4 linked regions of the Homo sapiens genome follow. The protein of the gene in region 2 purifies or fractionates together with the protein of the main gene of each other region. This does not show direct contact. Each region holds a gene or a part of one and is shown on either strand. Other genes may lie near its edges.

What was found.
Region 1: the proteins of KPLCE (region 2) and ARG1 purify together in Homo sapiens (affinity purification with mass spectrometry, with the first as the bait; one large-scale study listed by BioGRID). This does not show direct contact.
Region 3: the proteins of KPLCE (region 2) and CASP14 purify together in Homo sapiens (affinity purification with mass spectrometry, with the first as the bait; one large-scale study listed by BioGRID). This does not show direct contact.
Region 4: the proteins of KPLCE (region 2) and DSG1 purify together in Homo sapiens (affinity purification with mass spectrometry, with the first as the bait; one large-scale study listed by BioGRID). This does not show direct contact.

Annotation. Positions count from the first base shown.
Region 1 is NC_000006.12:131,572,030-131,576,025, forward strand, and holds the start of ARG1 (arginase-1), read left to right. Parts: upstream 1-1,196; 5' UTR 1,197-1,253; coding exon 1,254-1,310; intron 1,311-1,936; exon of another isoform or gene 1,937-2,263; coding exon of another isoform or gene 2,264-2,266; intron 2,267-3,996. UniProt on the Homo sapiens protein: Key element of the urea cycle converting L-arginine to urea and L-ornithine, which is further metabolized into metabolites proline and polyamides that drive collagen synthesis and bioenergetic pathways critical for cell proliferation, respectively; the urea cycle takes place primarily in the liver and, to a lesser extent, in the kidneys.
Region 2 is NC_000001.11:152,718,158-152,720,980, forward strand, and holds KPLCE (protein KPLCE), read left to right. Parts: upstream 1-1,364; coding exon 1,365-2,117; 3' UTR 2,118-2,313; downstream 2,314-2,823.
Region 3 is NC_000019.10:15,052,436-15,055,636, reverse strand, and holds part of CASP14 (caspase-14 precursor), read right to left. Parts: intron 2,156-3,201; coding exon 2,006-2,155; intron 1,905-2,005; coding exon 1,679-1,904; intron 480-1,678; coding exon 363-479; intron 282-362; coding exon of another isoform or gene 208-281; coding exon 104-207; intron 1-103. UniProt on the Homo sapiens protein: Non-apoptotic caspase involved in epidermal differentiation. Is the predominant caspase in epidermal stratum corneum. Seems to play a role in keratinocyte differentiation and is required for cornification.
Region 4 is NC_000018.10:31,352,616-31,356,159, forward strand, and holds part of DSG1 (desmoglein-1 preproprotein), read left to right. Parts: intron 1-1,284; exon of another isoform or gene 1,285-1,321; intron 1,322-1,681; coding exon 1,682-2,731; 3' UTR 2,732-3,544. UniProt on the Homo sapiens protein: Component of intercellular desmosome junctions. Involved in the interaction of plaque proteins and intermediate filaments mediating cell-cell adhesion.

The sequences.
Region 1 (3,996 bases), on a different chromosome or scaffold from region 2:
TTGGTTTCCTCATTTATCCATTCAATAAATATTTATTGAGTGCCTATTATACACCAACACTCTTCTAGGCCCTGGGGATACAGCAGACAAAATTCTCTGACCTCATGGAATTTAAATTCCAAAATGTTCTTTCCCACCAATAGGAAAAAGAAATTAGTTTCTACTAAGTGAATTTTCCCTTTAAATTACAATTACATAATTTTAAAGTCGGAAGGATCTTTAAGGTGCCTTTATTTTAAATTCATACTTTTGTATGGTGACAAATGGTAGCTCAGGGGCATAGAGGTTGACACCTTCCCAGCATTTAGACTATAAGCTCGACGGTTAAGTGGATTCAGAATGGCAGAGACTAAATCCCGACTTTTCTTCTACAGCCTATGTTGGCAACGGGTCTGAGCTTCAGTTTATTCATCAGTATAATGGCACCAATGATGAGACTTCACATAAAATTGGTATAAATATAAATATGGTATTTTGAAACAGAACTGCATCGGACACATGGTAAAAACTCAATGTTAGCTATTTTTATTTCTATACTTTGATTATGATATGATTCTACAATTATTTTCCTGTACACCATACTTCAAAAATGGTAACCTCTCTGGGTTACCAATCAAGTAACTAATTTTTTAAAGTAATCATCAAAAAAGGAAGTTATATACTCTTTATTATATTATACCCTAAAAGTTTATGAAATGTGTCTCATGGATTAACCATTTACCCTCATGTGTGAAATCTCAACTCAGGATTTTAGGGCTGGAAGGGATGTGACAGACGATCTTGCCAAGCCCGGCCCTTCTTCTACAAGGACGTCTTCAGAGATCTGGAGGAGGAAAGGGCCTTGCCCTGAGTTCGCTGAGCCAGAACAATAGGACTTCTTCTGTAGTTGTGAAACTTGTCAGTTGTTGAAGTCAGGTTAATGTCATCTGGCTGGCTTTTTAAAAGGGTGTGAAGTGAGAACATGAATAATTGTCACTTGATTAGAGACCTAGACTCAGAGTTAGGTTACTCCATGTATGAAGTAACCCCATATAGTTACTTCATACATGGAGTAACCATATAGTTACTCCATGTATGAAAAATTGCAAGACTGTTGACTGTCATTCTTTGGTTTAGTGGGTGGAGCCAGCTGTCCTCATTAGATAAAGGTTGTTTATTCAACCCAAGTATAAATGGAAAAAAAAGATGCGCCCTCTGTCACTGAGGGTTGACTGACTGGAGAGCTCAAGTGCAGCAAAGAGAAGTGTCAGAGCATGAGCGCCAAGTCCAGAACCATAGGGATTATTGGAGCTCCTTTCTCAAAGGGACAGGTAAGGAAAAAAGTCTTTCTTTGAATTCCTGGAATTTAGTTGAAAATTTTGGACTTCAAAATTTGTAAGGTGTTATTGTCTAGTTAGTTCAGTTTTCTGATACAATCTGGCCAGGAAATGCATATTTTAAAGTCCTCTCACCATTTTCCAACATTGTATAATTATAGTCACATATCCACTTACTTTTGTGGCTCGTGATCTCAGCCAAGGCTAAATTCATTTGAACCTACAGAATGTTTTCTCATATTTTTTAGGAGAAAATATTTTTCTTTGAATTGAAATGGACTCTTTCTGCATTGTAGCTACTCATTGAGGTTTAGTTGCTCTTGTTGTTTTTGATGTTACTGTGTGTATGTAGAGGAAGAGAGAATTTTAAGAAATACATTTGTTTAGTTATGTAATTAATGCCTAGAAAAATTTAATAGTTTGGTGGTAACCTTCAGGCTTCTTATAATTTGGATAACCTAAATATTATTGTTTCATGCAACTTTGTGAATAATTCATGTTATGTTAGGGTTTTAATGTTTCTATGAAACTGTTCATTCATGGACTAGGTAGAATCCTTTATGTGCCTCACTTGGAAGGGGAAAAAAAGAACAAAAAAAGAAAGAAAATCCTACTGCGGGTTGGCAACTCTAAAAGGATTTTAATGGATTTATGAAACCCCCAGATTTCCTTACAGCCACGAGCTGTGAATCCACACATGCCAGCAACATTGAATACACTTTTTTTTCTGCCTGGGCACACTTATTCTAGTAAAGAGAGTGTGATGACAGAACACCTTAGACTTCAACACGCATCTGTGCTTAAAGAGGATAAAAAACAAAGAACAAAATCAAACAAGACAATGTATGAGTTGAAACTACTAAGGTTGATTTTCTCCAGGTTTCTCAGGATCTGGGCAGCGTTTTGCTTCCTCTTAATTTGGAACCCTTGCTGTGTACTCTGACTTTTTACTGCAAAACAAATTGAGAGAGGCCAGAGGTTAGAGGCCCAAACTGCATTTGGACTGTCAGTAAATACTACTTTGCTTCCCCTGGAAATCCTCCAAAAGTCTCTCCCAAACACAGGGACATTTTGCTGACACAGAAATGTTCCTTTTAAAATCCACACTGTTCTCACCCACTCTTGAACAGGTTATAATAAATATATAATTTAAAAACCTCACAAAAGGGAAGCAAGTGTCCTCCTTCTACCACCCTCCTCCCATTAAAACATGGTCATGAGAATGGAGTTCATTGTCTCATGATTGTAAGGACTAAGAGAGAGAGATTTTTTACACTAAGTCATAGAGTAGAGAGGATAAAATGGCCAACATATAAGTATTTGTCCTCACCTAAAGGAGGTACAAGTTTGACAAATAAGCAAAAGGAAAGGATTAGAGGGCAGATGACTAAAATGTTGAGTCTGAGAAAGGGCTTCATCCCTGTCTCACCTCCTTGAAAGGCTTGCAAGGCAGCGAACAAACAATAAGGTAGGTATTATTTTTACCTTACAGTTGGGTTAAAAAAAAGCCCAGAGAGGTTTGGTAATGTGCTCAACGTCACACAGCCTTGACTGCATAATTCCAGACAAGATAATCTGATTCCAATGCCTATGCCCTTGATTTGCACTGATGTCTCTTCAGACTATTCAACTCCAAAGGCGACCTTATACTTGTGGCCATTTAGGGATTGGGCCCAGCTTAGAAAGTCGGTGGAGCTGACAAAGCAATTTCCAAAGTGGGCAGATAGAGCAAGCAAGAGGAAAGCCCAATCATGAGAAGCCATTTGAATAAAACAAATAAAAAAGAATTCTAGAAAATTTAATGGCTGTGTTATAGCAAATATAGTGTCAACTAAGGGGTCTATGAGCTTTGTTCTAAAATATGAAAGGGAGAAGGGTAAAAAAGCCAAGGAGTTTTATCAAACTGAGTATTGAGTATCTACTATATGTCAGCTCTACACTACAAAATATAGTGCCCCACATGTAAAGCAAGCTGGACTGAAATCTAACAATGAGGAAAAGACAAAAACAGACACAAAACTAAAGGCAAAACATGAACCAAGCAGCACCCTATTGGGGTTGAAAGAAGGAGAAATCATGTTTACTTGATTGGGGAGAGGCAGGTGTGTCAAGCAAAAAGGGAGTAAAGAAGCAAAATGTGTCAGGCAGAGGATAGGGCGGGTCCCTTGCTGCCAGGGACAGGAATTTAACATCAAGGATTTGCCTGGCACCCAGGGCAAGTCTTCTGTTCCTTTGAATGGGGAAAAAATACTTGCTTACTTTGATGCCACAGCCCCAATCCTAAAGATAGACACACGTGTCTTTTAACACATTGTCTCATCTGACAACATGTAATAATCTTCTGCATCTAAAAGCTCTGTTGGAAATTAAAATCAGAAAGATACAGAAAGGAACTGTGCCTTTAGACCTCTAATTGTTCAGGGGACTGAGGAAGACTTGCCCCTTGGAGGAAGAGTGTTAGTTTCCCTAATGTCAAAACGGCAAGGGTAGAACTTCCCATCATACTGTTAAGCAGGCCAAAACTTGAAATTACTGGGTTGGTCTTTGTTTGTAGTTTTCAGCTCCCAGATGATGACTTTTTCTGTTGCCTGCTTTCTCCCCAAGAGCTCTAGCTTACTTATGTGAGTACATGCACGTAGGTCTCTTTCATGTCACACTCTTTCGATGCTTTTGCCCAATC
Region 2 (2,823 bases):
CTGTGCCAAAAGCTACACTTAGCTTTAGATTAGATTCTCAATTTTAGTTTGATTCTCTGAGCTACACTTAGCTTTTGGCACAGTGTATGAAAAATTGAGAATCTAACTATAACTTGGATAAGTCCTGAAGACTCAAGTGACCTGGAAACAGCTTCATTAGAGACAGATCACATAGGCATCACTCATAACTTATAGGAAAAGGAGACTGACTTGTTTCCTGAGGAAGGGAACAGGAATCATTTATCTAGTGTTTGGGAAAACCCAATGTCAAGCACAGACATGCCCTGCCTCTGACTGAGGAGCCAGGCATACTGGGGAGGAATCTTGCCAATGCAACACCATCCCTTCTCCTTGTGATCTCTGGTGCTTCATTTAGATGCCATTAAATTGCCTCATTGCTGCCCTATAAAAGGTCTCCCCACCTGCTAGTTTTTCAGATCACTGACTTCTTCCAGTCTTGCTCCTATCAGCAAAGAGGGTAAGTCTCTATACGGGATAAGGACATGGTGAGAAACAGAGCTTTGGGGAAGCTGGGGTGGGATGAGAGCTGTGGGATGAAGGGTGAGCGAGGACTAGATGCTTAGGAAATCTGCTGAAGGAGGCTGAAAGCAATGCTGGTGGGAAACTTGGAGCCTGGGGCATGAGAGGAGAGGGAGGGGGACACGATGAGCTGGCATTCCTGTTTAAGAAGGGACTTTAGAGAACTGGCTCCCCATCCCCTTATCTGAATGCAATTGTGCAGTCCTCTCTTGGGTCTATGTGCTAATGAGGCCAACTGATTAGTCCAGCTGGTTCAAGGAGCACCTGGTAGAAACCTGCTCAAATTTAGCCTTGTTCTTTGCTCAGTACCGGGCACAGCTTGAGGCTCATGTTGGCTCAGGGTCCATGGACATAAATTTGTCTTTGCTGGGTATTCCTTGTCTGGGCAGAAGGAAGAAGGGAAGTCACCCTGGAGAGAACTGGTGGCAGGGGTCAATCATCTGGGAGCAGCAATTTCCAAAGGGTAATTCACAATGCAGACACTGAAGAAAGAGGAGAGGAGGCTTGGAGAGTTGGGTAGAAACACAGGCAGCACCATTTCAAGCCTCCATTTCCCAATATAGAGACTGAGGCCCAGAGGTAAGCGATGACTTGTACCAAGCCACATAGCCAGGTACAGGCACAGAAGCTGAGCTGAGAGTCCCTGGCTCTGAATCCACCTCCTGCCAAGTATACAGCCTCTGGATGTCTGCAACCTTCTCAAGAAAGCCTTGCTTGCAAATCACTGTATTCAAAGGGGATGTTGAAGGTTTCCCCTAGAAACCTTCCTGGTTTTACAGTTCTAATGAAACCTTTCTTTTCAGATTTTGCAAAGCCACAGAACAATGTGTGACCAGCAGAAGCAGCCACAGTTCCCTCCATCTTGTGTGAAAGGTTCGGGACTAGGGGCTGGGCAGGGTAGCAATGGTGCCTCTGTGAAATGCCCAGTTCCATGCCAGACCCAAACTGTCTGTGTGACAGGCCCTGCTCCATGCCCTACTCAAACTTATGTGAAGTACCAAGTTCCATGCCAGACTCAAACCTACGTGAAGTGCCCAGCTCCCTGCCAGAGGACCTATGTGAAATACCCAACACCCTGCCAAACCTATGTGAAGTGCCCAGCTCCCTGCCAGACAACCTATGTAAAATGCCCAACTCCCTGCCAAACCTACGTGAAGTGCCCAGCTCCCTGCCAGATGACCTACATCAAAAGTCCAGCTCCCTGCCAGACCCAGACGTGCTATGTCCAGGGTGCTTCTCCTTGCCAGAGCTATTATGTTCAAGCTCCTGCAAGTGGCTCAACCTCCCAGTACTGTGTCACTGACCCATGCTCTGCTCCCTGTTCCACCAGCTACTGCTGTCTGGCTCCCCGGACCTTCGGGGTGAGTCCCCTGAGACGCTGGATTCAGCGGCCCCAGAACTGCAACACAGGATCATCTGGCTGCTGTGAGAATTCGGGAAGCTCTGGATGCTGTGGTTCTGGGGGCTGTGGCTGCAGCTGTGGATGTGGCAGCTCTGGGTGCTGCTGTTTGGGAATTATCCCCATGAGGTCCCGAGGTCCTGCATGCTGTGACCATGAGGATGACTGCTGCTGCTAAACATACGACAGCTCAACTCCAGAATGCACTGCCCCGCTACCCCTTCTGGAACATGCACCAGCTTCTGGCCCCCTCTCTGTTAGTGCCAGTGATGTAGAACCTCATCACTTTGCCTCTGTGCTTTGCTTCTCTACCAAGGCAGCCTGCCAGAGTTAGTACAGTCCCCAAACTTTGGCATGAATAAAGCTCTGAATGCATTTCGTGGTAATTTCTGTCTGTTTGTTTGGTCCATATTTATGCTTTTCTATCAGGCACTCTTCTGCATCCCTCTCTTCTTACTCTTGTTTCTCAGCTAGAGGAAAGATCTGCACGAACATGAACAAGCAGACTGAGCTGGTGAAATCCCAGCCTGGGAGCCCCATGCCTTCTAGAATGCTGTGAATAAACTTTCCCACGCAAGTTAGAAGCATCTGAAAATGGAGATTTGAGGGTTGGGGCTGTTTCTGTGCTGCCCTTTGATGAGCCTCAGAGCAGGGTTGACCATGATGAGACCCTCATCTTCCTGGGTGTTGGAGAGATTGTGAAATTGTATCTGCTCATGGACCAGTATCACTGGTCATGGTCAGTATCACTGGACCATGTCTCCACCACTGTGCAGAGGGCTTGAACCCATGCAGGACTTTATGAATTACATTTTCTCATCTGACAGGCTTGCCCTGTTGAAACTATAGGTTGAAGGCCTGAGGGAAAAGGCTAGGAGCCCCCT
Region 3 (3,201 bases), on a different chromosome or scaffold from region 2:
TGGAGCTGAGGGAAATGGAGAGGGGTTAGGAGGAGGCTCAGCCCCCTCCGCCTGCACCCTTCTTGGCCTGGGCGGTGGTCCCAGCTACCTTTTGTCAACTCACCTCTGTCAGAAGTTCCAAGATATGTCCTTTCCTCTTCGTGAACACATCCACCAGGGTCTGGATAAAGCATGAGCCTTTCTGATCATGTCGGTAGGCGATGTATCCTGGGAATTCCAGAGAGGTGGGTTCGGGGGAGCTTCAGAGGGTAGGTAGAGGGGATCCTGGAAGGGCGTGGGTCCTGGAGGAGAGGTTCAGGAGTTGGGAGTGGCAGGAGAGGGGGAAGAGCAGAGGGATCCCTGGGCCAGCTGGGAGCTCATACCCTCTACCGTGGAATAAACGTGCAAGGCATCTGTGTATGTTGGGATGGTTTGTGGGCTGTCTTTGATGACCATCACAATCTCATCTCCACCTACTGTTTCACCGGGGTCCCTTTGTTCTGAAACAACAAGAAGAGGAGGAGGCAAAGTCAGAGAGAAAGGTAAGGAAAGGGGCTGGGCAGGGTGGCTCACACCTGTATTCCCAGTGTTTTGGGGGGCTGAAGCAGGAGGATCACTTGAACCTGGGAGCTTGAGGCTGCAGTGAGCCATGATTGCACCACTACACTCTAGCCTGGGAGACAGAGCGAGATGTCGCCTCTTAAAAAGAAAGGTAAGGGCTGGGCACGGTGGCTCACACCTGTAATCCCAGCACTTTGGGAGGCTGAGGAAGGCAGATCACCTGAGGTCAGGAGTTTGAGACCAGCCTGACCAACATGGTCAAATCCCATCTCTACTAAAAATACAAAAATTAGCCAGGCATGGTGGCTTGCACCTGTAATCCCAGCTACTTGGGAGGCTGAGGCAGAAGAATTGCTTGAACCTGGGAGGTGGGGGTTGCAGTGAGCCAAGATTGTGCCATCGCACTCCAGCCTGGGTGACAGAGCAAGACTCCGTCTAAAAAAAAAAAAAAAAAAAGGATGCTTTTGTGGTATGCCATGTGCAGTGGGGCTTTTTAATTTAATTTAACTTTTTAGAGACAGGGGCTTGCTTTGTTGCCCAGGCTGGAGTGCAATGGTGTAATCATAGCTCACTGCAGCCTCTTAACTCCTGGGCTCAAGTGATCCTCCTACTTCAGCCTCCTGAGTAGCTAGGACCACAGGCCCATGCCACCATGCCCTTGGCTAATCTTTAATATTTTTCATAGAGCTGGGTTCTTGTTACATTGCTCGACGCTAGTCTTGAACTCCTGGCCTCAAAAAATCTTCCCGCCTGGGCCTCCCAAAGTACTGGAATTACAGGCATGAGCCATGGTGCCTGGCTTCAGCTGGGGCTTTGGATCTGGGACTGGCTTGGATAAAAACACAGACTTGGTTGGGCATGGTGGGAGGCTGAGGCAGGAGGATTGCTTGAGCTCAGGAGTTTGAGACCAGCCTGGGCAACATAATCAGACCCTGTCTACAAAAATTAGCCTGACATAGTGGCGGGAGCCTGTAGTCTCAGCTACTCAGGAGGCTGAGGCAGGAGGACGGCTGGAGCCTGGGAGATGGAGATTGCAGTGAGTTGAGATTCCGCCACTGCATTCCAGCCTGGGTGCTGTCTCAAAAAACAAAACAGAAACAACAAACCACAGACTCTGTGCTCTTGGATCTGTCCCCACCTCCTCGACAGGCCTGTATGATGTACACCTTGGGCTTAGCTCGCAGGGCCTGGCAGTTCTTGTTGTTCAGGGCCTCGAAGAGATTCTCCAGCTTGACCATCTCCCCATCTTCTCCCTTGAGGAAGCCTTCCCTCCCGTGAGCCATGAGTACCACGAAGGCACAACTGACGGGATCTTCCCGGGAATCGATGGCCTGCTGGAATTTTTCCAGCTCTTCCTGGAATTGCTGGAGTGAGAGGAAGAACCAGACTCAGCTGGGTCCCCATAGCCTACACTTCCAACCTAGTACCTTTCCCCCAAACAGGCCTGGAGTAGGCACCCCAATACCTCGGCAGTGGGGTCTCTTTTCATGGTGCTTTCGAATCTCAGCTGCCGAAACATGTGTTCCAGAGCATCCAGGTCTTCTTCGGAACCTTCCCGGGCTTTGGTGACACACAGTATTAGGGCCAGGCGGGCACCTGACATATCATATTTCTCCTGGGGCCAAGAGAAGACAGAAATCAGCATGGAGAGGTTCAAGGAGAAGCAGATGTAGTCAAAAGAGGCATGCAGGCTGGGTGTGGTGGCTCATGCCTGTGATCCCAGCACTTTGGGAGGCCGAGGTGGGAGGATTGCTTGAGCCCAAGAGTTCGAGACCAGCCTGGGCAACATAGTGAGACTCTGTCTCTACAAAAAATGAAAAATATAGCTGGGTGTGCTGCTGTGCATCTGTGGTCCCAGCTACTTTGGAGGCTGAAGTGGGAGGATAGCTTGAGCCTGGGAAGTTGAGGCTGCAGTGAACTATGATCTTGTCACTGCACTCCAGCCTGGGCAATAAGTGAGACCCTGTCTCAAAAATGAACAAACAAAACAAGAGAGGCTTGGGCTTAGGGTTGCCAGGTATAATAGAAGATGCTCAGGTACACTTAAATTTCAAATAAAAACCAAATACCTTTTTAGTATAAGTATATCCCAAATATTGCATGGGATATACTTATACTACATAATTATTTGTTGTTGATGTGAAATTCAAATTGAATTGGGTGTCCTTTATTTTTAGTTCCCAAATACAGCAACCCAACCTGGGGTCCAGCTCTTTTCTAGCTTGGTATGAACTTGGGGGAAGTCACTGCTCCCATCTGAGCCTCAGTTTCCAAATATAGACAATGAGTGTGTGTGTGATTTTGAAGATCCCTTCCAGTTGTCGTATTTTGTGGATTTGCAGGTCTCCTCATCCTCCCCAAGAGTGTTCTGAGCATTCCTCTATTACCTCCTCACTTGCAGAGGTCTCAGAGTTTCTGAAGCTAATACTGAGATCCCGTCTGAGGAAGAAGAATATTGGGGGTCAACAGTTCTTTCCAGAACAGAAGCAGCGTACTGAGCACCCCAGTGGTAAGAACTTCATCTTTTAAAAAATCAACATGAAATTGTTTATTGCAGGACTTCTCAGAACCTTTAATGTGTTGAGAAGAACTTGATCTTTGGAGACAGAGGTAGCTGTGTTTGACTGCCCCCACCACCCAACCCAACTTCGGTTCCATCTC
Region 4 (3,544 bases), on a different chromosome or scaffold from region 2:
GTAGATTTGGTCTTTTCACATAGTCCCATATTTCTTGGAGGCTTTGCTCATTTCTTTTTATTCTTTTTTCTCTAAACTTCCCTTCTCGCTTCATTTCATTCATTTCATCTTCCATTGCTGATACCCTTTCTTCCGGTTGATCACATCAGCTCCTGAGGCTTCTGCATTCTTCACGTAGTTCTCGAGCCTTGGTTTTCAGCTCCATCAGCTCCTTTAAGCACTTCTCTGTATTGGTTATTCTTGTTATACATTCTTCTAAATTTTTTTCAAAGTTTTCAACTTCTTTGCCTTTGGTTTGAATGTCCTCCCATAGCTCAGAGTAATTTGATCGTCTGAAGCCTTCTTCTCTCAGCTTGTCAAAGTCATTCTCCATCCAGCTTTGTTCCGTTGCTGGTGAGGAACTGCGTTCCTTTGGAGGAGGAGAGGTGCTCTGCTTTTTAGAGTTTCCAGTTTTTCTGTTCTGTTTTTTCCCCATCTTTGTGGTTTTATCTACTTTTGGTCTTTGATGATGGTGATGTACAGATGGGTTTTTGGTGTGGATGTCCTTTCTGTTTGTTAGTTTTCCTTCTAACAGAGAGGACCCTCAGCTGCAGGTCTGTTGGAGTACCCTGCCGTGTGAGGTGTCAGTGTGCCCCTGCTGGGGGGTGCCTCCCAGTTAGGCTGCTCGGGGGTCAGGGGTCAGGGACCCACTTGAGGAGGCAGTCTGCCCGTTCTCAGTTCTCCAGCTGCGTGCTGGGAGAACCACTGCTCTCTTCAAAGCTGTCAGACAGGGACATTTAAGTCTGCAGAGGTTACTGCTGTCTTTTTGTTTGTCTGTGCCCTGCCCCCAGAGGTGGAGCCTACAGAGGCAGGCAGGCCTCCTTGAGCTGTGGTGGGCTCCACCCAGTTCGAGCTTCCTGTCTGCTTTGTTTACCTAATCAAGCCTGGGCAATGGCGGGCGCCCCTCCCCCAGCCTCACTGCCGCTTTGCAGTTTGATCTCAGACTGCTGTGCTAGCAATCAGCGAGACTCCGTGGGCGTAGGACCCTCCGAGCCAGGTGCAGGATATAATCTCGTGGTGCGCCGTTTTTTAAGCCCGTCGGAAAAGCGCAGTATTCGGGTGGGAGTGACCCGATTTTCCAGGTGCCGTCCGTCACCCCTTTCTTTGACTCAGAAAGGGAACTCCCTGACCCCTTGCGCTTCCCAAGTGAGGCAATGCCTCGCCCTGCTTCGGCTCGCGCACAGTGGACGCACCCACTGACCTGCACCCACTGTCTGGCACTCCCTAGTGAGATGAACCCGGTACCTCAGATGGAAATGCAGAAATCACCCGTCTTCTGCGTCGCTCACGCTGGGAGCTGTAGACCAGAGCTGTTCCTATTCGGCCATCTTGGCTCCTCCTCGAAACCAATTCATGTGATTTTTTTGTGTATGGTTTTATGTCCAAAGTACACAATTATAAATAAGTCCATCTAAGTAAATTTTTAAAATCATAGTATTAGAATTATACTTAAAATGATTTCTAACCAAATTATTTCAAATAATTATAAAATGATTTTTAGAGCATCTCTAGTATGTTAAAATCTTGTTTTATTTCATTCCTCTTTGGAAATGCTCTGGAAGAAAAACTAATGATAAAGGCTGTTCTATTATTGTTAAATATGCATTCATAATTTCATTTTCTCTTTCTCCTATAAATTCAGAAAGCATATGCTTACGCAGATGAAGATGAAGGACGCCCATCTAATGACTGTTTGCTCATATATGACATCGAAGGTGTAGGTTCCCCTGCTGGCTCTGTGGGTTGTTGTAGCTTCATTGGAGAAGACCTGGATGACAGCTTCTTGGATACCCTGGGACCTAAATTTAAGAAGTTGGCAGACATCAGCCTAGGAAAAGAATCATATCCAGACCTTGATCCTTCTTGGCCACCACAAAGCACTGAACCAGTTTGCCTTCCTCAGGAAACAGAGCCCGTTGTTAGTGGACACCCACCAATCTCCCCACATTTCGGCACTACCACAGTAATTTCTGAGAGCACCTATCCCTCGGGACCTGGTGTACTGCATCCTAAGCCTATTCTCGATCCTCTGGGCTATGGTAATGTCACTGTGACCGAGTCTTACACCACCTCTGACACTCTGAAGCCCTCTGTGCACGTTCACGATAACCGACCAGCATCAAACGTGGTAGTGACAGAGAGAGTGGTCGGCCCAATCTCTGGCGCTGATTTGCATGGAATGTTAGAGATGCCTGACTTGCGAGATGGGTCGAATGTTATAGTGACAGAAAGGGTAATAGCACCAAGCTCTAGTCTACCCACCTCTCTGACTATCCATCATCCTAGAGAGTCTTCAAATGTGGTAGTGACAGAAAGAGTAATCCAACCAACTTCCGGCATGATAGGTAGTCTGAGTATGCACCCCGAGTTAGCCAATGCCCACAATGTCATTGTGACAGAGAGGGTTGTTTCTGGTGCTGGCGTAACTGGAATTAGTGGCACCACTGGGATCAGCGGTGGCATAGGCAGCAGTGGCCTGGTTGGCACCAGCATGGGTGCTGGGAGCGGTGCCCTGAGTGGAGCTGGCATAAGTGGTGGTGGCATTGGCCTGAGCAGCTTGGGAGGGACAGCCAGCATTGGCCACATGAGGAGTTCCTCTGACCATCACTTTAACCAAACCATTGGGTCCGCCTCCCCTAGCACAGCTCGAAGTCGAATCACAAAGTATAGTACCGTGCAATATAGCAAGTAGTCAGGACCCCAGCTCACTTTTTCATAGTCATTGTGGTTTAGATCCAATTCCCACCACTAAAAAACCAACAATGTGATTTATAACGCACAACTTCGTGCTCAGGTCATCTAGGAGCAAGGTGAGAAATCACAATGAGAAAAATAAATGGAAACACCACTGCTAGGGGAGAGCTCTCCTTAGCATTCATAAACTTTTCTCTTATATTAGGACTAAGGAACTAAAACTTGAGGCAGAGTCTTCTTTGTGCCTGAGTGGCCTGTAGTCCATCTCCAGCATGTAACTGGCCTTACGATGGCAATTGGCATCATTCTCCTTGCTCTGTTTTGCTTTTCCATATAGCTCGAGCAAAATTCAAAAAGAACTAAATATGCAATATATGTTCATATCTATGGGAAAAATCTAAAATGTGTGCCAGATGCCCTGTTGGTTTCACAGATAACATAAATAAAAATTCAACCACAGATTTATACAAGGGTTAACCATTTTTTTTAAGTTTGACTACATAGTCAAGTCCACAAGCCATCAAGCACTCCTACCTTAATTATTGCACTAGAGAAAATAAATTCCAAATTAGGAAGTGTTTCCTAGGAGGAAAATTCCATTAGAGAGTGGCAATAGGATGAGGTTTCTTCAGGGTAAACTAGCAATGCCTGAGCCTGAACCTTAATGTGGGGCCTCAGTTAAATCTCCTGTGGAGTCAAGGATTCTTCTGATTCTAGTGTGTGTTTAGTGATAGATGTAGTCTTGACGAATATTGCTTACTGGTGAGGTTGAGGAATATCACACTCGTCTTTCCCTTTACCACTGTGGTTT